7 linked regions of the Homo sapiens genome follow. The protein of the gene in region 1 purifies or fractionates together with the protein of each later gene. This does not show direct contact. Each region holds a gene or a part of one and is shown on either strand. Other genes may lie near its edges. The genes, in order: RABGAP1L, VPS50, PHLDB3, GOLGA5, ACOT7, BMAL1 and DZIP3.

The links.
Region 2: the proteins of RABGAP1L (region 1) and VPS50 purify together in Homo sapiens (affinity purification with mass spectrometry, with the first as the bait; one large-scale study listed by BioGRID). This does not show direct contact.
Region 3: the proteins of RABGAP1L (region 1) and PHLDB3 purify together in Homo sapiens (affinity purification with mass spectrometry, with the first as the bait; one large-scale study listed by BioGRID). This does not show direct contact.
Region 4: the proteins of RABGAP1L (region 1) and GOLGA5 purify together in Homo sapiens (affinity purification with mass spectrometry, with the first as the bait; one large-scale study listed by BioGRID). This does not show direct contact.
Region 5: the proteins of RABGAP1L (region 1) and ACOT7 purify together in Homo sapiens (affinity purification with mass spectrometry; one large-scale study listed by BioGRID and IntAct). This does not show direct contact.
Region 6: the proteins of RABGAP1L (region 1) and BMAL1 purify together in Homo sapiens (affinity purification with mass spectrometry, with the first as the bait; one large-scale study listed by BioGRID). This does not show direct contact.
Region 7: the proteins of RABGAP1L (region 1) and DZIP3 purify together in Homo sapiens (affinity purification with mass spectrometry, with the first as the bait; one large-scale study listed by BioGRID). This does not show direct contact.

What each region holds. Positions count from the first base shown.
Region 1 is NC_000001.11:174,218,520-174,222,019, reverse strand, and holds part of RABGAP1L (rab GTPase-activating protein 1-like), read right to left. Parts: intron 2,896-3,500; 5' UTR 2,863-2,895; coding exon 2,725-2,862; intron 1,049-2,724; coding exon 856-1,048; intron 1-855. UniProt on the Homo sapiens protein: GTP-hydrolysis activating protein (GAP) for small GTPase RAB22A, converting active RAB22A-GTP to the inactive form RAB22A-GDP. Plays a role in endocytosis and intracellular protein transport.
Region 2 is NC_000007.14:93,354,366-93,357,865, reverse strand, and holds part of VPS50 (syndetin), read right to left. Parts: intron 1,976-3,500; coding exon 1,786-1,975; intron 1-1,785.
Region 3 is NC_000019.10:43,480,747-43,484,246, forward strand, and holds part of PHLDB3 (pleckstrin homology-like domain family B member 3), read right to left. Parts: intron 1-3,500.
Region 4 is NC_000014.9:92,811,305-92,814,804, forward strand, and holds part of GOLGA5 (golgin subfamily A member 5), read left to right. Parts: intron 1-246; coding exon 247-450; intron 451-3,500. UniProt on the Homo sapiens protein: Involved in maintaining Golgi structure. Stimulates the formation of Golgi stacks and ribbons. Involved in intra-Golgi retrograde transport.
Region 5 is NC_000001.11:6,334,768-6,338,267, forward strand, and holds part of ACOT7 (cytosolic acyl coenzyme A thioester hydrolase), read right to left. Parts: intron 1-3,500. UniProt on the Homo sapiens protein: Catalyzes the hydrolysis of acyl-CoAs into free fatty acids and coenzyme A (CoASH), regulating their respective intracellular levels.
Region 6 is NC_000011.10:13,364,790-13,368,289, reverse strand, and holds part of BMAL1 (basic helix-loop-helix ARNT-like protein 1), read right to left. Parts: intron 2,791-3,500; coding exon 2,698-2,790; intron 1,626-2,697; coding exon 1,508-1,625; intron 1,225-1,507; coding exon of another isoform or gene 1,112-1,224; intron 1-1,111. UniProt on the Homo sapiens protein: Transcriptional activator which forms a core component of the circadian clock.
Region 7 is NC_000003.12:108,641,722-108,645,221, reverse strand, and holds part of DZIP3 (E3 ubiquitin-protein ligase DZIP3), read right to left. Parts: intron 2,785-3,500; coding exon 2,708-2,784; intron 1,059-2,707; coding exon 441-1,058; intron 1-440. UniProt on the Homo sapiens protein: E3 Ubiquitin ligase proteins mediate ubiquitination and subsequent proteasomal degradation of target proteins.

The sequences.
Region 1 (3,500 bases):
CATCACTACAAAAAAAAAAAAAAAATTAGCTAGGCATGGTGGTACACACCCAGCTACTCAGAAGGCTGAACAGCATCACTGCACTTCAGCCTGGATGACAGAATGAGATCGTGTCACCAAAGAAATTTTAAAAATCAGTAAAAGAATGAAGACTTTCTCTTTGCCACCAGGCACAAACAGGTCACCTTCCCTTACCTACCAGTTTCTGCTGGTAGCTACTTTGTAACCAGCTAAGGAGAAAGGTAACATAGACAAGATCAGAGCTGAGTAGTTACCAAAAAAACACCATCAGAGCCTAGATCAAATTATACCTGTGGTGTTTAAGCCAGCTGAAGTTGGAGCTGGTTTTGGTTTTATTTATTTTTGCACCCAAAAGCATCTTGACTTATAAGCTAGTATTCAAAGTACAAATCCTAATTATTCATAGATGTATTTATTATTTAATACACTGTTGGAATTGATATGTTTTACTTAGAGTTTTTACTAAATATAACTTTAAATAAGTGTAGTGAAACTGAGCAAAAAGGCACATCACATGAAAGACTATCTCCATTACACTATTCTGTGACACCCAAGTATTTACTCATTTGTTCAGTAAGTATCTGTTGAGGACCTACCATGCATGAAGTACTAGGGGTAAAATGAGGACCCAGACATAGTCTTTGTTCCCAAAGAACATTAAGACCTGATTTTTATAGGCAGAGATATAGGCAGAAACATAACACCGAAGTGGAAACTCTCAACAAGAACTGAAAGCTTGAGAAGAGCTAACAATTTTTTCTGATTTTCATCTTAAAATTTTCACTATTACTTTATCCCATTTCTTTAATAGTTTCTAAGAATTCAATACAGTACCTGTGTTAGACGGATCCAAAATTAACTGAAGAGATGGCTTATTTGTTTGGCTGGCTGGAATATCTCCAAACGAATGGTCTGAAATCTCACTGGAACTTTGACAATCAACAAGAAGACTGCTTGGCCTTTTCTCGGAATCTCTCAAAATCTCTTCCATGGCTTTTTCCAATTGTTCATCACCATTAGAAACTATCTACAGACACAGCAAGACAATTCTGTTTCAATTCTACCATAGTTCTGAAGCTAAATTTTATGAAAGTATTTCATTTCTAGAAGAAATTAAAACAATCTAAATATTTAAATATAGTTACTAAAATACTAAGAAGTTGTTTCACATATATAATACATTAAAATCCTGGTTATAAAACTAAATTAGAGGAAGATTATTAGTTTCACAAAAGGATTCTTTATAAAACACTTAAGACAGTTTCCAACTACATTTTATATAAGATCCTATTTACAGAGATGTATTTATCTTTTTTTCCCCTTTCTTTTTAAAGACAGAGTCTCACTCTGTCACCCAGGCTGGAATGCAGCGGTGCAATCTCAGCTTATTGCAAACTTCGCCTCCTGGGTTCAAGCGATTCTCATGCCTCAGCCTCTCAAGTAGATGGGACTACAGGCGTGCACGACCACACCCAGCTAATTTTTGTATTTTTTGTAGAGACGGGATTTCCCCACATTGGCCAGGCTGGTCTTGAGCTCCTTACCTCAAGCAATCTGCCCACCTTGGCCTCCCAAAGTGCTGGGAGTACAGGCTATGAGCCACCACGCCTGGCCCTTCTTTTTCTTTTTCTTTTTTAGGAACACACCCTAAAAATCAGATAACCTTAAATTTACATGTCTAAAGGAAAAAATAGGTAAATTTAAATCGGGTCTATTATGAATATCATTTAAAAGGTTATATTTCTTGTTAGCACAGCATAACCATATTTCTGATTTCTTTACAAATTGTTGGCTAGCTCCCAAGATGAATATTGCTAATTTCCTTACACTTAAGTTGACTCATAGTTTTCTCAAAGGCAGGTGAAACACAAAGCCTAAGCAAATAAGTGATGTCTTAAACACAATAATGCTAAAATACAGGTATCTAAAAATAAAGCCACTGATTATTTAAATAAAATTATAAAACAATATATTCTCAACATAAACATTTAGTAATCTCATTTTCAGAATATATTTTATTAGACTGATATATTAATACACTTTTGATGCCATAGTTAATACTAAATAAAAGTCATAAGTAATATATAGCACTTTTAACTACTTTTCCTATTCCTGTTTCTAGAAGACAGTTATACCATTTTCAAGCCTATATAACTGAGTTTACTTGCTTCCTTTTCTTTGACTTAGAAAGTGCAACACAGAAGTGAAAAAGGGACCATATCTAAATAAAAACTCAAATGCTAAAAATATAAGATATGCTTTAAAAACATTTAGACAAGTCGACTGTTAAATCACACAACGGAACGTTACCAGCTGATTTAAAACATAAAAATCATAAAGAAAAAAGTCTCTCAAGTGAAAGCAAAACATTTAATTAACTTCTAAAACCCAGCAGTAAGAGAAACAAAAACATCCAGATAAAGTAATGTAAAATTTAACCATTATGTCTAATTCACCAAAAAATCCTTTCTCTTCTTTTTCTTCTTTTATTCTTCCCCCTAAAATTCCAAATCAAAAGGTAAACAACCAAAAGCAAGAACTTTTTAAAATACACAAACCAAATAATTAGGGTCTGGATAAATCAAACATTGATTTTATTTTGAAAGTCAGCACTTGAGAAAAACCTTTGCATTTTACACATCTCCTAAGTTTCAAATAGTTTTTAATTAAAAATTATACCATATGTAGAAAAGAAAAAAATACCTTCAGTTGAGGTTTTTCTTCATGTTTTGTAGAATTATCATCTGCATACTGAGGAACCAAAACAAATTCTTCACTGTTCATTGTAGCCACAGAATCAGATGATCCACTAACCTTCTGTAATGAAGCTCTGACCTCCATTTCAGTTCTGCAAACTTCTCTTCCCACAACCACCTGGAAAAACAAAAGGGATTAAAAAAAAAAACCTACTGATTAAAAACATGAACTAATTAAAAACATGAACTAATAAAGCTTTAAAAATGGTTTATGTGAAGAAGAATCCTGCTGGCTAGATAATTATCTCAAAGTTAGGGAGGCTACCTTCTTGGACTGAGCCACTTAATGGAAATGTACTCTCTCTTCATCCTAAGTTTCCAGACTAATAGAGCCATATTGTTACCTAAAAATTTACACAAACCAGTCCATATCTCAACCAGATTTATCACTGTTTACCTGACACACTCACTCTCATTTCTCTTAGAAATACTGTTTTCTTTTTAATAGAGGAAATAATTAAATGATACTAGAAATACCTACAAATGCACACACAGACACAAAACCATATTCACTGACACTGCTATATTAATTAAATCTAAATGCTTCAAAAAAAAACTTATCTCCTCAAGACCGAATATTGTACCTGCAAATATTTTTTCTGAGTAACTAAAGTTGACTAATACAGAATTCAACATCCTAAGACATATAGCTTCTCTTTCCTGACACATTATCACTTATTAACACCAAAAAGAAAAAGAAAAAAGCTTCTATATTGCCTTCAC
Region 2 (3,500 bases), on another chromosome or scaffold:
CTTCTAAGATACAACAAATGAATAAGGTAACAAGGATCACAAAGTCAGGGAGCTGCAAATAAAATTAAGACTACGAGTATCTTTCGCAATCCAAATCCATCTGGTTCCTGAATTTTAGATACTGAATTGCTAGGATGAGAATAAACAGGGATTCATCAGAAATTTCTGCAGATTGACTTGGTACTGGAGGTTGAATAGCAAGAGTTCAGATAGGGAAAGACAGCTGTGTACTATTATCTAATAAGAAAAGAAAATGTGTCTTTATTGAAGGTAACCACTAAATATAGTACAATTTCAAAATAGGAGAAAGAATTGATTTTAAAAACTTGGCAAACTGCTCAGCTTGTGTATCTGATCTCTGAGAGCACCTGTCCCCGCCTGGTAAGTAATCTCATTTAACCACTCAGCATTCAGTGAGGATCCATCGTCAGTGATCGCTGGACTCATCATTGTGGGAAGTTTCCTTCAAAGACAGAAAAGAGTCCCTGCTGCTGCTGGGGAAATGTCACTGAATTACAAATATCAATCAGTTAAAGCTCTTTCAAAGTACTAAGTTAAAAAAAAATCAGTCTACTATATTAAAAGAGGAAATTCAAAAAACGGGCATCATTCTTGCATCGAATAGAGCTGTGCCTTTCCTCCTTGGCTACTTTGTATTCTTTCCCAAAACCCTTTCCTCAGTACCAACCCAGAAGTGTTTACAGCTTACTTTACTAAATGGATTCTAGCAACATTAAGCAGTCTATCTGCATCTAGGTTTAACATTTTGGTTATCAAATGTCAGTGGGGCTAAACGTGGTGAAGTTTTTCTCAATCTGGCTTTACTGGTCGAACTCATTAAAAATAACACATACATTCCTACTTTGCTTCTAAAGATCCGAAACTGAGTAAGAGTGGGGACATTCACACAAGATTCACGCCAATGTGAATGTTCTAGGCTAATGCATTTTATCTCTTTACAGTGTTAAGGCCAGAAAGGATGAGTCTGAGCAGGTATATACAAATAATTATTTTCTTACCCAAATGAAATAAAACTTGACTTAGCTTTTACCCATGACATTCATAGGTTAAGAAAATGTAAATCCTAGAGTTATCAAAGCAATGAGGATTTGGTGATAATTTTAACACATGCCATATACAGAAAAGCTTCCCATACCAAGCTCACTGAGTTGAACTGTGTCAAAAATTCGGCATCCTACGTAACAATAGTATTTTTCGTTATCTATATAGTCATACAAAAGAAAAATAATCAAATCTATATTAAAGGTAAAATCTAATGTAAGATGTAAGTTAAGTTTAGCCATTTAAATATTAATGTCTTCACTCATCACTAATACGTGTCAGTGTGTAGGATGTTACCATTTCATCGTTGAGGAGTACGAGAAGGTTTGTATGAGAAGGTTTAAGTTACATAATCGATTATGGCTTATGAATCATTTCATTGTTTCTGTATTCAATCTGTCTCAGTATTTATCAACTTCAGCCTTTTCCTATAACACAGTTGCAGGAAAAATATAGCTAATGTCTTGGCTTTGGCTGTATTTCTAGATCATTACAGTAACAGTTCACAAAGGGCTGAAAAAGATTTGATGAGTCAAAGGGCACTGCTTAGATACGGTGCCCTTAATCTGAATAAGGCAAAGAATTGACCTAAGTAGTTTGTATTAAAAAAGCAAATGTTTCTTTATATTTCACTCTCATGATTTTGAATTAAATAACACACCCAACAAGAACAGCACAAAGAAAAAGGAATAAAAACTTAATTAACTATTTTCCAGCTCTCACCCTGTGCTCTTTGATCCACCGTTCCATGTCATTCTCAGTTAGGTAATAAGCTTTAATATAAGTTTCTACAAATTCTTTATCAGGAATGGGTCTAATATCTGTTAGTTTTTCAAGTTTCATTAAAAACTGTTGAAAATCCAATTGCATCAGGGCACGACCCTCATTACTGCATTTCTTGACATTGGCATATCTAAGATGCAAAACAATAAAAAAAAATACATTATAGGATAATTAGAAACAAAAAACTGTCAGGTATTTGAAGTTTTCTCTAACCTATATTTGGACAGATTCCCCAGAAATGAGAGGGTTATAGGAAATAGAGAACATAAGCCTTGAGTCAGAAAGACTGGGTTGTGTTTGTGCTCTGTCATTTTACCTATGCGGGCCTCAGTTTTCTCATTTGCAAAGAGATCCAATGAGTTCAAGTCTCTTTGTTGTTCTACAGACCACGGATCTCTGTATTCAATCAACATAATTGTCTGTAAGAAAGTTAAACTGGTATTCCAGTTAATCTGGCTGCCAAGAGTTACTTTATAAAAACTAAGCTTTGAATACTTCAAAGTAATCTTAGTTTTATAAAACTGTTCAATATTCAATGCAATGCAAAAGAAACAAATGAAATAATTCTCCCATGAACACTCTGAAAACATAAAGAAATGTGTAAGCATGTAAGCATAGAAAGTATATATATATTTTTCATGATAAAAAGCTTATAGACCTATTCTGATATTCTACACTACTGAAACAGTGTGTTTTAAGGTGGACTAAGTAATAAAGACAAATATACAAACCCTAACAATACAACACTTTATTGCTCATTAAGTCAATGTTTCATTTCTTCAATCAATCATACAGAACATGGAAAATTCAACTGTGGGAATGAGGTACTTACCTTAAGGAAAGTTGCAAGAAAATAAAAGCTTATTTTATTTAAAATGACCAAGCTTTTTTTTTTTTTTTTAAAAAAGAGTATTTTATACAGAAGTATTACATATATTATTCACATTTCGACTTAAACAAATTTATTTAAAATACTCTTCATTCGTGATTGCTGACACAGCCTTTTTATAATTTATAGCACTGCTGGTTTCAATACAGAGTGCCACGACTGTTGTCAGCTTGTCACTGTCATCTTCCCACTTTCTAATACATTATTTTGTATAACAAATGAGAACAAAAGAAAAATCAGACAAATGATAGTGTGAATATTCAACTGATGTGCAATTCTAGAGCACTGTACAGGGTCTTTGAAATAGCTGTTCGCTTCTCAGGGATATTTCAGATGTATTACTGATCCTTATTTGTATCCTAGATGTTATGGGCAGAGTAAGCATGGTCTCTGAGTAAGTGGGAAAATTACTATTAATAGATCCATAACTTCAACACATGAAAGATTTATAGAGTTTACAGTGATATGATGGTGATTATTATTAATGATGATATAAGGGTTACGAGGGCTGATTTTACCACCAGAAATCAGGAGTATAACCAGGCATGGTGGCTCACGCCTGTAATCCCAGTACTTTGGGAGGCTTAGGTGGGCGGATCAACTTGAGGCCAGGAGATCAAGAACAGCTTGGCCAACATGGTGAAACCCCATCTCTACTAAAAATACAAAAAATTAGTGGGCATGGTGGCACACACCTGTAGTTTCAGCTGCTCAGGAGGCTGAGGCACAAGAATTGCTTGAGCCCAGGAGGGAGAGGCTGCAGTGA
Region 3 (3,500 bases), on another chromosome or scaffold:
GGAAACCAAGACTCAGAGAGGTTAAGTCACTCGGCACAAGTCACACAGCCAGAGCTGACAGAGCCAGGACTCACCAGGTAGAGTGGTCACCTCAGATGGTCATACAGGTTGGGGAGGAGGATTTAAGGCAATACAAGTGTCCACTATTTATGAGAGCCTGACCATGAGCTGGTCTGATCCAACCTATTCTTCCCAAATAATCCCTGCAAACAGTGGTATGATTCCGGAGGTCAAACTGAGGTTCAGGGTAGTACATCTCAGATTTCTTCATGCAAGCAGATCCGCTGGGGATTTTGTTAAAATGTTAAAATGCAGACTCTGATTCAGTCATTTCAGGGTGGAGTCTGGAGTAGGGGGAGAGGTTCTGCATGTCTGACAAGCTCCCAGGTGGGCCCTGATGCTGCTGTTCCACCAGCCACACTTTGAGTGTCAAGGAGTTAGAAAACTGAAGCAGGATGGGTGCGGTGGCTCACACGTGTAATCCCAGCACTTTGGGAGGCCAAGAGGGGAGGATCACTTAAACCCAGGAGTTTGAGACCAGCCTGGGGCAACATGGCGAAACCCCGTCTCTACAAAAAATACAAAAATTAGGCTGGGCGTGGTGGCTCACGCCTACAATCCCAGCACTTTGGGAAGCCAAGGTGGGGGGATCACCTGAGGTTGGGAGTTTGAGACCAGCCTGACCAACATGGAGAAACCCTGTCTCTGCTGAAAATACAAAATTAGCCAGGCGTGGTGGCGCATGCCTGTAATCCCAGCTACTCAGGAGGCTGAGGCAGGAGAATCGCTTGAACTCGGGAGGTGGAGGTTGCGGTGAATCAAGATGGCACCATTGCACTCCAGCCTTGGCAACAAGAGCGAAACTCCATCTCAAAAAAAAAATACAAAAATACAAACATTAGCCAGGCATGGTGGTGTGTGCCTAGGATCCCGGCTAATTAGGAGGCTGAGGTGGGAGGATCGCTTGAGCCCAGGAGGTGGGGGTTGCAGTGAGCCGAGATCACACCACGGCACTCCAGGCTGGGTGACAAAGGGAGACCATGTCTCAAAAAAAAAAAAAGAAAGAAAAGAAAGAAAACTGAAGCAAGGCCAGAGCAAGAAGGGATGAGAAACAGAGATGAGATCTGCTGGTTGGAGACAGGAGAGTGAGGTGGGGAAATGAGAAGGATTAGGGAGGAGGGAAAGGAAGGGAGGGAAAGGCCAGGTTTAAAGAGTACCCGCTGGGCCTGCAATCTCCCCAAATCCACACAGAAAGACCAAGGATCACCACTGTGTGTGGAAGCTCCCGCTCTGTGTCAGGCACTATGCCAAGTGGTCACTGTGATTACCTCGTTTCTTCTCCAAAAGAACCCATTAATGTTCCTGCTAGACAGATCAAGAAACTGAGGCTTTAAGAAGAGGTGACTCTCCAAGGTCACCAAACTAGGATGTAGGGGAGCTGGGCCCCAATCTAGGAGGAGACCAGGGATGGGCTTGGGACTCCACCACTGCCCGGCTGTGTCACCTCCACAGAACTCCTGCCCCTCTGGGAGCCTCAGTTCCCTATGCTAAAACACCAGGGTTATCACAGCACTCTCCTCTGGGGCTGTTTCAAGGATGAGCTGGCTGCCCTCAGGGTCTCTCACCTAGAGGTTCCTCTTCTAGGTGTGAAGCCCAGGGACACACTTGCTCACGTGCACAAAAGATAGCAGGGGTGTACGGCAGGGGACAAAGCACACAGCAGGGGACTGTTTAATAAATGATGATGCTAGAAGCCAGGCAGAACACCAGAGCAGGAGCAATTCTGTTTGTTTGTTTGTTTGTTTGTTTTGAGACAGAGTCTCGCTCTGTCACCCAGGCTGGAGAGCAGTGGTGTGATCTTGGCTCATTGCAACCTCTGCTTCCCAGTTCAAGCGATTCTCCTGCCTCAGCCTCTCGGGTAGCTGTGACTATAGGCACATGCCACCACGCCCAGATGATTTTTGTATTTTCAGTAGAGACGGGGTTTCTCCATGTTGGTCAGGCTGGTCTCGAACTCCTGACCTCAGGTGATCTGCCCACCTCAGCCTCCCAAAATGCTGGGATTACAGGCGTGAGCCACCACGCCTGGCCTGTGCTTCGTTTTTAATGAGCACAAGCTTATGCCTAACAATGCAGAAGACCCCACTGCCGTTCCTGCCTTATTTTGCTCCCTGGCTCTTATCAGCCTCTGACATGCTATTTATTTTACATATTGATGTTGCTTTGTGTCCATCTTCCCCCTTAAAACATCAGCTTCCCCCAAAGGTGGGGATTGTTATCTTGGTCACTGCTATGACCCAGGGTCTAGCACACAGTAGGCACTCAATAAATATGGGCTGAAATGAATAAGGGAAGGACAAATGGTGGTAAAAACAAAAAGGTTGGGAAGGATGTGCTTATTTATGAGACAAATTCACAAAATATGGCTTGACTGGTGCATGTGGAAAAGTATAAACACAGATTTGAAGGCTTCTCAGCAGTAGAAGTGAGATCAGGAAGAAAGTGACCACTTTCTTAATACTTTATCTATCATTCTTTTTTTTTTTTGAGGCAGGGTCTCACTCTGTCACTGAAGCTGGAGTGCAGTGGGGCGATTATAGCTCACTGCAGCCTCCACCCACTGGGCTCAAGCAATCCTCCCACCTTAGCCTTTTCCCGAGTAGCTGGGACCAAAGGCATGCACCACCACACCTGCTAATTTTTTAAATTTCTGTAGAGATGAGGGTCTGACTATGTTGCCCAGGCTGTTCTCCAGCTCCGGGACTCAAGTGATCCTCCCACCTCGGCCTCTCAAAGTGCTGAGATTATAGGCGTGAGCTATGGTGCCTAGCTTTATCATTCTTTATAACAAAACGCATTGATTCTATGAATGTTATTAGTATAGGCAAAAATGTAATTTATGTAAGGGAGTTGTCAGCTAAATCAAGAATGTGAAAAAGTCAACAGGATAAATTATTTGATTATTTCCACAAATAAATAGCATTTTCTTTAATGGGGAGGCAGAACTGTTAGAGATTAAAAGATTTAAGAGACATTAAACCAAATGCATAGCGTGTGCTTTGCATATAGATTCAAATAAATCAACTGTGAAAAGATATTTTAGGTCAGGCATGATGGTTCAGGCCTATAATCTCAGCACTTTGGCCAGAAGGGAGGCTCGAGGCCAGGAATTCAATACCAGCCTGGCCAACATAGTGTCTCTACTGTTAAAAATGGAAAACAAGGCCAGGCACGGTAGCTCATGCCTGTAATGCCAGCACTTTGGGAGGCCAAAGCGGGTGGATCACCTGAGGTCAGGAGTTCAAAACCAGCCTGGCCAACATGGTGAAACCCCGTCTCTACTATAAATACAAAATTAGCCAGGCATGGTGGTGGGCGCCTGTAATCCTAGCTACTCCAGAGGCTGAGGCGGGAGAATCGCTTGAACCCTGGAGGCGGAGATTGCAGTGAGCCGAGATTGTAATACTGCACTCCAGCTTGGGCAACAAAGTGAGACTCCA
Region 4 (3,500 bases), on another chromosome or scaffold:
GGGAAAGGCCTTGGATGGCTATATTTTTAACAAACTTCCTGGTTGATTTTAATGCATTGCCATGTTTGGGAGTTACAACTTTACATTTCCTATACTTTAGCTCCTAACAAATTAAGAATTTTTTCCCATCCCTACTATGTTGTTTGGCTGAGCTAATAAATCCCATAAGATATCCGAATGGATGGTTGTAAAATATGTTTCAAAGCTAAATGATATCATTAATTATGATATAAAAATTTGTCACAGAGCGAGTTTGCTGCACGCCTTAATAAAGTGGAAATGGAACGTCAGAATTTAGCAGAAGCAATTACACTGGCCGAAAGAAAATACTCAGATGAGAAGAAGAGGGTTGATGAACTGCAGCAGCAAGTCAAGCTGTATAAGTTGAACTTGGAGTCCTCTAAGCAGGAATTAATTGACTACAAGCAAAAAGCTACTAGAATACTGCAAGTAAGCATGAAATGTACACTTTTGGATGTTAAGATGTGCAAGTTAACTGAAAGGCAATTTGAGACTGTGTAGATACTGTGTGAGGTGCTTTGTTCATGTTCGTCTGATTGGCTAGCTTTAGGTGCCTTACTCTACTTTAGAAATTTTATTAAAGGATGCAGTGTTTCTTGTTCCTACCACTTCTTTTAAAAAAAAAATTCATTCTGCCACTGCCTAGTTCAGGTCTTCAACCTGTCACCTTACTCACTGTGATGATATTAATGCTTGTTGTTGAGCAGCTGTTTATTCTTCCTTGTTGATCTCCTATTGAATTTTTGCAGCAACTGCTTTAGGACTCATCCAGTTCTCAGAATTGTCTCACCCAGCTTTTTTTCCCCTCCTTCAGATCTAAGGTGATCTTACCCTCTACTTTACTAAGAAAGACTACAGTCATCTAATGTCGTTTTTGAATTCTCTTTCCTTTGTCCCTCAGAGGGAAAACATGTCCTTTCATTTTTTTCTAGGATCATTTTCCTGCCTGTGCATTGATTCCATCTCCCATCTCATGTGTAAGCCCTTTCTCCATAGATCTATGCCCTTCCTTCCTGTGTGTGCCTCTCTGCTGCTGCTGCCTTCTGGCTCAGCTTACTCAAGAGCACATGGTTATTTAGTGGAAAAATGAAGACTAGATCTCGGACTCCTGCCTAAGAGAAAAACAGTCTCTTTTAGCTTTGTGACCACTTTGCACTATTTCCCTATCTTCCTTTCTTTCAGTGTCATGCTTACCAGAATTGTGTACGTGCTGTCTTCATTTCTGTAGAACTTGTTAACTCTTATCTCCTTCTTTTCCTACTACATGTCTGAAATTTCTTCTCAAAAATATTTGATGACCTAAATAAATATTCTCTGTCCTTTTCTTAGTCTCCATACCTTGTATTTTGGTAGAACATTTGGCTCTGTTAACCCTCCCACTTCCTTGGAACTCCTGCCTTCTATGCTATTCACATCTCCTTGGCTCTCTTTTTGTCCTCTTCTACTGCTGTTTCTGTCTCTCTTGGGCGCTCTTCCCAATCTCCAAAGAGTCAGAGTCCTCCTAAGCTCTGTCCTGAACCCTCTTTCATTGTCCTTTCTTACCTTGCACTGCTGTATGCTGCCTCTGCTTCTAATAGCCGCCTGCATATGACTTCAAGCATGTTTCCAAGCCTGACCTCCTGACCTCAGTGCCCAGCTGCCTACTGTGCAGGCATGGAGTGTTCAGCTCCCAGACCAACTTCTCCCTCATTCTTCTGTTCTGGTCAACGTTACTGCCATGTGGCAGTAAAGCTTGAAACCTCAGGGTCATTTTTGACTTTACCTTTTTTCTTTAGTCTCAAACTTCTAATGGCTATGAATACCTTTTTTTAATGCTACTTCCATGAAGTATCATATTGATCTCCTCCTCAAACTCTTCTTTCTAAGTACTTTTTTGTATCACCCTAATTTGTTAATTCATTGAAAAGTTACTTATTGAGCACCTAACTACTCACTAGGCACAGAGGATACAAAGCTCAAAAGATGTGTCCTCTTCCTTTAAGAAAACATTCATCTTAGTGGAAAGAAACAGATAATTGACGTAATAAGGTTATTAATGCAGTACAATGGGAGCTTGAGAGAAGAATCCCTTAAAACTTGCCTGAGGCTGTCAAAGATCACTGGACTGAGGAGATGTGGTATAAAGAGAAACTTGAAAGATGAATAGGAAGACTCATGATAGGGAAGAGATTTCCGAGAGAACAACCTGTGCCAGAGCAAGGGGGCCAGAGAGAACATGGCATATTTAAGGGACTGCAGCTAGTTCCATACTGCTGGAACATAACGTCTTCAGAGATGGGAGGCAAAAGACTCATAAAGTTCAACGGCAGGCAGAAGCCATGGTCAGGTTTGAGTGTGAGAACTGTGGCAGCCTGATGAAAAGGTTAGGGGAGATTTGGGCCTCTGTCTTGTTCATCGTTGTATCCCCAGCACAGTGCCTGGTATTCGGTACATTGTTGAAAACATGGAAGTGATAAGGGGTGGCATCAATGGCATGTAGATGGTGAAGAGGTGATCATAAGAAATAATGAGGACCTGATCAAAGTTTTTGGCAGTGAGGATGGCAGGCAGGGGACAGCTAAGAGATATGTGGGAGATAGAATATATGACATGTGGAGATTTAACTGGAAGGATGGGGGAAAAAGGCAAATGGAATCCAGGATGACTCCAGGTTTTTGGTTTAAGTGTATGAATGATGTTTCCTTGTGTTAATAAAAGGGGAAACAGGAAAGAGAACAGGTTAGGGTTAAAGGAGAGTATGACGAATTATGGTAAGTATGCAAAATTGATGCAACATTGAGGTGACAATGTTAGAAAGGTAATTAGAAGTAAGTTGGGAGAGTAGGTAAGTTTAGGCAAGAGCGATGTGTAACCTAACGGGGAGAAAGGCTGAGGTCTAAAAACACAGTCTTAAACATCAGCATTTACAAATTGGGCAAAAGGATAGCCTGCAAAAGAAAAATACTGAGAAGGTGAGTGGTCAGAGATTGGAGAGAACCAGGAGGAGACTGATGCCATCCAATGAAGCCAAGCAGAGGGAGAGTTTCAAGTGGTGCATGATCACCAACCACAGCACGCGGCTCTGATGTGACAAGTCCCGAGCTAAATTCCTGGACTTGGCAACTAGGAGGTCCCTGGGGACCTCTCAACAGAGAGTTCCGGGGTGCGCTGGGAGCTGAAGACATGGAGGCAGGGTACTTGACCATGGACATGAGGACAGTAGCTAGATGGGGGAATGAGGTTGGGAGGTTTCTGGTTTTTTATTAAAAAAAATCTTAAAATGTTATAAATGATCATGTTTATTATAGAAAATTTGAAGAATACAAAAGAAGTTTGAAGAAGGAAATGGAAATAACCCATAATCCTACCACCCAGAAAAGGAAAAATTATTTTTGATGGAGGAGAATGACTTTAAAATATTTTAATTTAACGTGAAAGCTGCTGGTCCTTGTTGTTCCTAGTCTAGAATTAGGACTTTATAAACTGGTCTTTGCATGTCA
Region 5 (3,500 bases), about 170 Mb from region 1:
TCACTTGTACAGAAGGAGTCTGAGGCCCAGAGACGTCTAGGGGTTTACCCAGGGTCACACAGCAACTTGGTGCCATACTCCCATGTCCCAGTCATTTCAGAGAAGTATCTGCAAGGATGCCTTTAAAAAGTGGCTTTGTCAGGCACGGTGGCTCACACCTGTAATCCCAGCACTCTGGGAGGCTGAGGTGGGTGGATCACTTGAGCTCAGGAGTTCCAGACCAGCCTGGGTAACATGGCGAAACCCCGTCTCTACCAAAAATACAAAAAATTAGCTGGGTTGGCTGGGCACGGTGGCTCACACCTGTAATCCCAGCACTTTGGGAGGCCGAGGCAGGCGGATCACCTGAGGTCAGGAGTTTGAGGCCAGCCTGACCAACATGGAGAAACCCCGTCTCTACTAAAAATACAAAAATTAGCCGGGCGTGGTGGTGCCTGTAATCCCAGCTACTCGGGAGGCTGAGGCAGGAGAACAGCTTGAACCCAGGAGGCAGAGGTTGCGGTGAGCCGAGATGGCGCCATTGCACTCTAGGCTGGGCAACGAGAGCAAAACTCTGCCTCAAAAAAAAAAAAAAAAAAAAAAAAATTAGCTGGGCATGGCGGTGCACACATGTGGTCCCAAAGGCTGAGATAGGAGGATCGCTTGAGCCCGGAAGGCAGAGATTACAGTGAGCCTAGATTGCACCACTGCACTCCAGCCTGGGCGACAGAGCGAGGCCCTGTCTTAAAAAAATAAATAAAAGTGGCTTCTTCAATGTGGAAGATCCTCACTATAAAGCAGAAGAGCAAACTGCAGGAAGTAATGGAGGAAAGGGAGACAGGAGCAGCCCCAGGGCCCTGCCCAAAACCCCCAGAGGAGCTCACTTCCCACCAGTTACCTGAACCTGCCTCCCCAAGGCAAAGCGCTTTTCCTCCTCAATAAACACAGCCCCAGGCTCCAAATCAAGCCCCAGGGGGCCCATTAAGAAAAGGCCTGTGCCTGCCCCTCCTCCCCGCACAGAACACACCTTGGGAACGTGGGGCTCCCAGTGCTTGGGAACCACAGGCAAATAATATGGGAAAATATTTCCACCGCACTTTGACTGAGAGTGAATCTGACAACCTGCTTTTGGGAATAAAGATTTCCTGTTGGATTCAGCTAGAGCCAGCCTGACAAGCCGGTTTCCATGACAACTCGAGTGGCCCTCTGGACCTAAATGAACACCATGGAGCAAATGAGGCAAACATGCTAATTGTATTTTCTCCATCATTTAATGAAAGCATCAAAAGACAACGGCAGTATTAGAAAATTATCTCTCGGCCAGCTGCGGTGGCTTACGCCTGTAATCCCAGCACTCTGGCAGGCCGAGGCAGGCGGATCACGAGCTCAGAATCGAGACCATGCTGGCTAACAGGTCTCTACTAAAAATACAAAAAAATTAGCCAGGCATGGTGACACGTGCCTGTAATCCCAGCTACTCGGGAGGCTGAGGCAGGAGAATCACTTGAACCTGAGAGGCGGAGGTTGTAGTGAGCCGAGATTGCGCCACTGCACTCTAGCCTGCACGACAGAGCAAGACTCGGTCTCAAAAAAAAAAAAAAAAAAAAAAAAATCTCTTAAAATCTTAAGAGCTCCCAGCTATTTTTCTGGAGCAATTCACAGCAATCACATCCCAGTTAGCTTAATATTTTGACAGTTGCTGGAGATAAATGAGCTGCCTCAAAGGCAAGGTTTGCGGGTCGTCTGCCTGGGCCTGTGCTCGCTCAGCGGCCTCGTGACAGGCAGCACAGCCCAGGTAAAGGGGACACACAGAACAGGGGACCCCTGTCTCCTGGGGTGGAGACAGCACACAGATGTCACGCACACAGCTTATGACTCAGCCTGCTCCGGGCCAGGGTCCCCGCGCGCATCCTCTGCCCCCACCTGCAATACCCCTATCTTTCAGAGGTCACCACCCATTCAGCCAGTGCTCCCCGTGTGCCCACAGTGTGCCAGGCACTGTTCTTGCTGTTGGGGCCTTCGAGTTCAATTTCCAGGGGACACATGGGCAGAGACAGAGAAGGGCCTCAAGAGAACAATAGAGACTGCAGAGAGAGATGGCAGAGAAGCAGAAGCACAGACGAGGAGATGAGCGAGACAGAGGGGGAGATGAGACTCGCAGTCACAGAGTGAGACAACAGCGGGCTCCGGGGCCTGACCAAGATATGGAGAAAAGCTACAGCCTTGGGGCTCCAAGGCCTCCCTGCCCAGCCCCTGCTACAGGGAAAAGGCTGAAGCTGGGAAGAAGAACCTGGGGCACCGCCCAGCCCCACTGGGAAAAGCCTTCATGTGCTGGCAAGCGTATCCTGCCTTCTCCAAGCCTCACGCGCACGACAGCGCAATGCCAGCCCTGATGTCCCCAGGGAGGAGGGGTGGGCATCTCTGTCCCTCTCTGAGCCCATCCTTCGGAGGAGGAGGAGAAGGCCGAGGGCTGTGGTGGCCAGGACACAGCTGGGAGGCCGAGAAGCTCCCAGCACCTTCTGGGTGAGCTGGTGGGGGCTGCTCTCTCATGCTCACGCCTGCCTTGGCTCTGCACAGGAGCCTCTCCCCCTCTCAGCCCCTAAAGAGCGAGGGATCCTCACGAATATGTCAGATTGTGTCGTCCTCATCAAAACCCCATCAGCCAGCATGTCTCAGCACTGATGCCCAGTTCTTCCTGGTCGCCTCTGCTCATTCACTTATTCATTCATTCATTTGCTCATCCACTATCGGTTCCATATCTATTATGGGCCAGCAGAAGCGGCCAGGAAAGGGAAGTTCAGGATCTAGGGAGTTCCTCAAGCTCAGTACCCCTGACCTTTGGCCTGCATCACTCTCTGCTGTGGGGACAGCGGGTCCCAGCCATGCTGAAAGCCTGAGAACGCCTTTCTGTCTCCCTGCCTCTCTCCCCATCATCCCAAACTGCTCGGCTGGGCTCGGTGGCTCATGCCTGTAATCCCAGCACTTTGGGAGGCCGAGGCAGCTGGATCACCTGAGGTCAGGAGTTTCAGACCACCCTGGCCATCATGGCGAAACCCTGTCTTTACTAAAAATACAAAAATTAGCCAGGTATGGTGGCTCATGCCTGTAATCCCAGCTACTCAGGAGGCTGAAGCAGGAGAATAGCTTGAACCTGGGAGGCAGGAGAATAGCTCGAACCTGGGAGGCAGAGGTTGCGATGAGCCAAGATCACACCACTGCACTCCAGACTGGGCAACAGAGTGAGACACCATCTCAAAAAAAAAAAAAAAAAAAAAAAGAAACCTGCTCTTCAGGGCTTCCTCTGAGGCTATGGCCTCTGATGGACCACAAAGGGGGCTTTCATGGCAGAAAATCTGCAAAGCAGATCCCTTCCTGGCATTTTTGAAGCCACCAACTCCTGCAATGACAAAGGGCACTGCTGACTGGGCCCTCACAAGCAGGAAGGTCCTAGGAAGCAGGAGAGCGCGGCAGGCCATCCCTCCTCTCCAGGAAGGGGCCAAGGCTCCACCCCCAGCACAGTC
Region 6 (3,500 bases), on another chromosome or scaffold:
CTCAGTGATGCCTGTCCTTGCGCCCACATGAGAATTAATCATCCGTTCTCTATGCCTGGCACTATTTCTATGGCTGTACCTATTACTATGCAGGGTGCTGTCTGTCTCATTTCTCTGACTATATGCTAAGAGCCTCAAAGGCAAGGCCCAAATGCCATTCATATTTTTCTCCTAAGGTCACTTAAAAAAGCCAAGGCTAGACTATAAAGAACAACAGATACCAAAGTCTGCATTTTACTTTTAGGAACAAGCGGTGTGCTGTAATGAAAGAGATGACTTGAAGGAGATTATCTGGTGGTATTTTTTTCCAGGGATTAACGTGGACAGCTTGGGAGCAAGACATTAGGCCACACTGATACTGTTCTTACTATGTGCTAGGAACTGTTCTGCCTGCTTTATATACATTAACACTTTCAATCCTCACAACAACCCAAAGAAATAGGTACTCTTCCATAAATGAGAAAACTGAGACAGAGAGAGGTTAAGTAACTTGCTCAAGGTCACACAGCTAGTGAATGGTGGAGCCGGAATGAGCCCAGTAATCTCCCTTGTGTTCTCATTCTTTTTTTTTTTTTTTTTTTTTCTGAGACAGAGTCTTGCTCTGTTACCCAGGCTGGAGTGCAGTCAGTGGTACAATCTCAGCTTACTGCAACCCCCACCTCCTGGATTCAAGAAACTCTCCTGCCTCAGCCTCCCAAGTAGCTTGGATTACAGGCACGCACCACCACACCTGTCTAATTTTTGTATTATTAGTAGAGACGGGGTTTTGCCATGTTGGCCAGGTTGGTTGCAAACCCCTGACCTCAAGAGATCCACCTGCCTCAGCCTCCCGAAGTGCTGGGATTACAGATGTGAGCCACTGCGCCCAGCCAGAGTCCTCATTCTCTCATTCTTAACTGTAGGAGTGTACAGCCTCCCACAGGACTAAAGTAGATGACAGCTACTGGGGCCTTGCACAGAAGTGTGTGCAGTAGCAGGAAGCTGGGGGCAGAGGGAGCGATGTGGATGGTGGTTCCACTACTGCAAAAGAAGAAAGCCAGGTGGGGGAGCCAACCTAAGGAGGAACACTTTGGTTGAAGAAACACCATATTTATAGTTGACGTTTTCTTACTTTTATGAGGCTGCCTGTGTGCAATTCAGGTAAATAGAGCCCATTTGTTCTGGGAGAACAAATCAAACTTAGCCCTTTAAACTCAGGAGCATACAACTGGGATTTTCTAGATTCTGAAAGAAAAAAGAAAAGTCTAAAAATCAGAAAGAATCCAGTCTAAATAGCTCTTCTTTTCAATAAATTTGGACATTGAGATTTTTTTCTTCTTTTTATGTAAAAGACCAAAGAACATAAATAATTCCATTTAGCCAAAGATAGCTCTGGTGCCCCAGAAAGAGGACAGAGAAGTAGGACTGGAAAGGCTGAGCCCATCACACACACCCGCCCTCTGCTCACTCAGGGTTGGCTGCCTGTGAGTGGGCTGCTGAGGAAATGCGAGGCCTCTCTGGTACTCACTTTTTGCATCTATGAGCCGCTCCCGGGGTGCGGTGTCAGAGGAGGAGAGCTGCTCCTTGACTTTGGCAATATCTTTAGGATGCAGGTAGTCAAACAAACTCTGACCAATCAGATCATTCTGGGGAGATGAAATGTTAAACATGACAAGTCAATTGCATGCAGAAAATCAATTATGCAACAAGTAAGCATGCACAGTCTGCATGTTGCCTTTGTGTTTTTGTGCATGAGACCTCAAACTTTTCCTATGTGAACCTGTACATATGTCCAACCACTTTGCCTGACACCAGGAAGGAGGCATCTGGAGGTTGGTTTTGATAACATGACGGGAAAACCCTCAATTATATAAACAGTTTATGCTCTTCTAAGGCAACAATCTTGGAATTCCCCTGTAAGACCTCAGAAGGCAGAAGATAGGGGTGGGCTCTGATTCCAGCTCTGCTGTTCAGCCTCTCTGTTCTCAAGCAAGTCACGCATATCATATGCTTCAGTCACCTTGTCTATTAACAGAGATAACAGCAACTTCCTCCATAACTTTGCTCTGAGACTAAAAAGAGCAGAAATCTTTGGAAAAATTAAATTTACATTAATTCTAATTTACATAAATGTCATTTTGATTCTTCAAGTCTTCTGCCTACCAAGCTTCCATGCAAATACCAGTGTGTGAGTGAATGAATAAATGAATAAAAACTCTGGGGGACATAATAGGTGAAAAGTTCTGTTCTAGAAGCGTTTATAAATGTTACTCTTATTTGATCCTATAAGTTATCATTAATTTTTAGAGTAAACTGAGGTTCAATAGAGCTAAGAAGTGACACAGCACTGCAAACACAGTATGGAGTGGATTTCCAAGTGACGTATTCTCTGGTATTGTGTTAACCTGCCTACCTTTCTCCCTTGTCAGATAGCCTCTTACCCTCTGTCCTTGCCACATATTGTGGGATATTTATTTTGCAGCAATAGAAGAAAGCCATAATGCTATCGATCAGATCAGAGTCAGATCTTTCAATGGGGGGAATACGGAACATATTACAAGATTGTTCTAAGTCTAAATTAATTTATCTGTTAAGAAGTTAAGAATTTTCTGGAAGAAGTTCACATGTGACTTGTATACTATAATTATTCTGACAAAATTGAGTGACACTTCTGACTGCTGTGAGGCTGCCCACCATCAACAGGAGCATGAACAATACCTGGCTGTAGTTGAGGATCTTGAAGACAGACTCTGAGACAAAGAGTATCTTCCCTCGGTCACATCCTACGACAAACAAAAATCCATCTGCTGCCTAATCAGGAGAAATGGATAATCAATTTCTCATACTGTAGGAAACATAATTTGTAATCACCCTGATAACAAATAGAGGATGTGCTTTCTAAGCATCCAAAGCACAGGAACACTAACAGTTTCAGTGATATCCTGAGTGCAGGATGCTGAAAACAAACGTCTCTGAAGAACTGTAAGATTGTGTGTGTGTGTGTGTGTGTGTGTGTGTGTGTGTGTGTTTCTGCATATCATCTAATTATTATAGGAAGAAAGTCCAATTAAAGTAAGTTATATTTCAAAGCAGAATTCAGCTTGCACGTGTTCTTTTGAAGGTATCATGGTCCAGAGAATCATATTTCATTGCTCTAATAATAACAACTCTATGGAGAGTCAGAGAATCTGAGATTTGGAAGGACTCTTCAAGAATCCCCTCTCCAACATCTCAGCCATCATCTGCCTTCAACTTGAAAACCTCCACGTACAGGGAGCTCTCTAAAACAGTGGTTCTCAACATTCGGAGCAGTGTTTTTTGTTTTTGTTTTTATGCTGATGGTCTGGCATGGGGCTGATCACTGGGGTATTTTTAAACCCATCCCACTTCCACGTTAATGTGATTCTAATGTACATAGGGCTGAGAACTACTACTCTCAAATGTTATCCCTCCATCCAGGGCCGGACTATTTGCATTCAGAAAAGCAAAACTCCCCGCTTAGATTCTTCTTACCCCTTCTT
Region 7 (3,500 bases), on another chromosome or scaffold:
TCTTTCTGAAAAATGCAGACTCCTTAATGTGACAAAAAAATCCTCTTGAATGTACTCTATGAACTCTCCCCTACTTTAATCTCAATGAAGCCAACATTTTTTAGTTGCCTGCAGTATATTTTTATGTTTCTATACCTTTATTTTTGTTTCCCTCTGAAACATTCTTCTCAGTCTGCTTCACCTGGCTAACTTCTGCACACCATTAATAGTTCTTTAACTATGATACTCTCCAGAAAGCTTTTTTGGACTTCTTTAGCCTAGGATTTCCCATGGTATTCTGGAAACATCTCTAGCACTATAATTTCTATTACCTTCCTGATGAGTCCATTTTCCCAAAACCATGAGCTCACTGAATCTCTTGCCCTTTGCACTGTGCCTGGCACAGAGCAGACATTCAATCAATGGAAGTTTATTGGCTGAAGTAAATAATCATTTAGTACCTTGTTGATAGCAGGATAACATCCTCTGTATGATTTCTGGTACTGGTATGCCTAGGTAGACAGATAGCTGATGGTAATCAAGGGAGATATTCTCAATGGGATTCTCCTTCACTTTGTCAATATCCTCTTGCATCATCCCAAGGCGCAGAAGAATATCTGAAACTTTTTTCCAAATTGAATTGAACTGTGACTCAGTGAGACCATTCATCAAAATCTCACTAAGGAGGATATCCCTGTATTTGCACAGTCTCAGGATGTCTGCAGATTTAGAGATGTCAGAAGATGGCGGTTCCATATTCCATCCTTTTTTGGGTGCAGGGAACACATTTAAATGTTTTATAAGAGCTAACAGGAGGCATAAGTCAAACTGTTTGGATTGCGGTAACTCCTTGTTAGGAGGATAAAGCAGATGCCATGATCCACCCAAAGGATGATTGGTCCAAAGATGGTTGTAGTAGGATTCCAGCACATTCTTGTGTATAAGAAGCTCTTTTTTCAAAAGAGGAGGTGGCATAGCCTCATCAAATATTTGTCGAACAATGTCAGTACCAGAAATAATAATTATATGAAGCAGATGATAGAAATAATTATAATCAAGCTTGAAGATAGGCATTTCATCTGAAAATAAATTTTGAGAAGTCAAGACATTCCACATTAATGCTCATTTTCTATTTGGTCTCTCACATTGTATCCTAAGCTCCTGTAGGATAAAAACTATTCCAAAAGAATGAAGGATAGTACAGTGCTTTGCCACAGCCAGTGCTCAATTAGCATGCTGCTTTCTGCCTGTCAAAAAACCTAAACAAAAACAACATGTTCCCAAGCAAAAGTAATAACAAAGACTAATCACCACAGAAGTCTTTCAGTCATCCAAGGTTTTGTTCAAGTAAATGACCTTTAGCAACAACATGGCATCACAGTATTAGGTCTTTAAAAATTCTGAAATTTGCCAAGAATGCTAATTGTCAATGTCTAACTATACTTTACTTAAACAATTATACTTTATCCTAATCAGCACTGCCCAATGGAACGTCATGTGATAAAATGTTTTATATTTGCACTAATACTCACTGAGCATTGGAAATGCGGTTTGGGTGACTAAGGAACTGAATTTTAAATTTAATTTTAATTAATTTAAATTTAAGTAGCCACATACAGCTAGGGACTGCTATACTAGATAGCTCAGATCTATATCAAGAAATGCCAAAAGATCTAGCTCCTTGCTACTCAAAGGGTAGCCCAGAGACCAGCAGCATCAAGCATCCACCTGAAAGCCTGTTAGGAAAGCACAGTCTCAGGCCCCACTCTAGACCTACTGAAATCTGCCTTTTAACAAAATTGCCGGATATTTCAAATATATGTATAATGCTTGAGAAACTGTGATCTAATAAACCTCATCTTCTCACCCCCTCAAAAAAAGATAAGTAGGTATTTCATCAATAACATGGAATAAGGCATGAAACTGAACTATTTGGTATTTTCCTGTTTTAACAGTGCTTTCAAAGGAGAAAAGTCGGCTGAAGTGAATTAGAAAGTACTAATAATTTAGTATATAATGGCATTTGGTGTTATATGGATATCAAAATATGTGTTTGTCACAAAATGCAGCCTTATTATTTTATCCTTCAAGATTCTATGTTTCAAGAGATTTATTAAATTAACGTTTTTGCTTGAAATACTTGATATACATTGTGGAGGCAAGTTAAAAAGCTAATGACACAGGGAGCTTTCTTTGGGTTACCAAATAAAAAGTTGGCTGGACTGCCACCAAACTATTCTTCTATGGGCCCAGGGTCCCTTAATTAAGGCCTCCAGGTTCTGGGCAGGACATTTCCTAGCACACTCCTAAGAAGCTGGCAGCTTAGTTTAGATTACTTAGCCTCAAAACTTGGCCTCAAACTCAAAATGTTCATTCCTTTCATGTAAGGGTACTCTAATGCTTGCTCTATTAAGAAGGAATGCAGCAAGGGAAGGAACAGTTGGTAGAAAACCTCTGCTGGAACACAATCCCACGGTATAGTCACAGCTATGCACCAGACCTAGCATGCCTCTCTATAGGATGTCAAGGTAATGTGAGATCCATAGATGTGCTGATCTTCCTGTCTGTGATTTCCAGCCTACACCAAGCGCTGCTTGCTGGTATAAACCCAAGCTCAGTGAATGACAAACACAGTAAAGACGTGGTTGTTAATGGCATGAAAGTTGACAGAGAAGTCAAAAATTTTAACATACTTTTCAACAGAAGGCATATAAAAATAAAATAATACCTTTTGTATTAAATTTTAAACTGATCTTCGGTCTTATATCAGTATCAGTTATTTTCAGAGATATCAACTTTCTATAACTGCAAAAGGAAAAAAATTAAGTTATAGTGGAAATAAAATAATACCAAAGTCAGTCAAGATTTCTAGTATGAGCATGGCTAAGTGAGTATTTTCATCTTCTCCTAGAAATAATTCAAGAAGGAGAAAAAATAATGAACAAATAGAGCTCACCAACAATGAAAACCCTACACTGTCACTTTCATTGGAATTATCAAGTAAGCAGTATTGCCAGATTTCATACTAAAACTATCACATTACAAACTTCCTTGCAAAAAGGCTGTGTGGTAGCAGAAAAAAAAGGAAAGAAAGCTTTGCATTGTAAGACAAAAAAAGCAAGCAAGCAAACAAAAAAATAGCAAATCTGGAAGTCCTCCCTGGCCCTCTCTTCACCATATAATATTTTTGGCAATAACTATTCCAAGAAACCCCAACTCATTTAACACCTACTGATTAAAAACAATAAAGATGCTAGTAGAACATCAATACAAATAATTAGAAAAATAAAAAATAAAGTAGCAAAATGTATTAACTAGACTAAGCACTAGGTAAATGCTGCCGTTAAACAGATGGCTTGGCTTTGAAATGAACCACGGAAAACAAAACAAAAAAATATTGGACAACAACGCTACAATGTAAGCTTAATGAGGAAAGGGATTTTGGTGGTGGTTGTTATTGTTAACTGATTCTATCTCCAGTACCACTATAACACTGTTAGTTGCACATTACATTGAAAAAA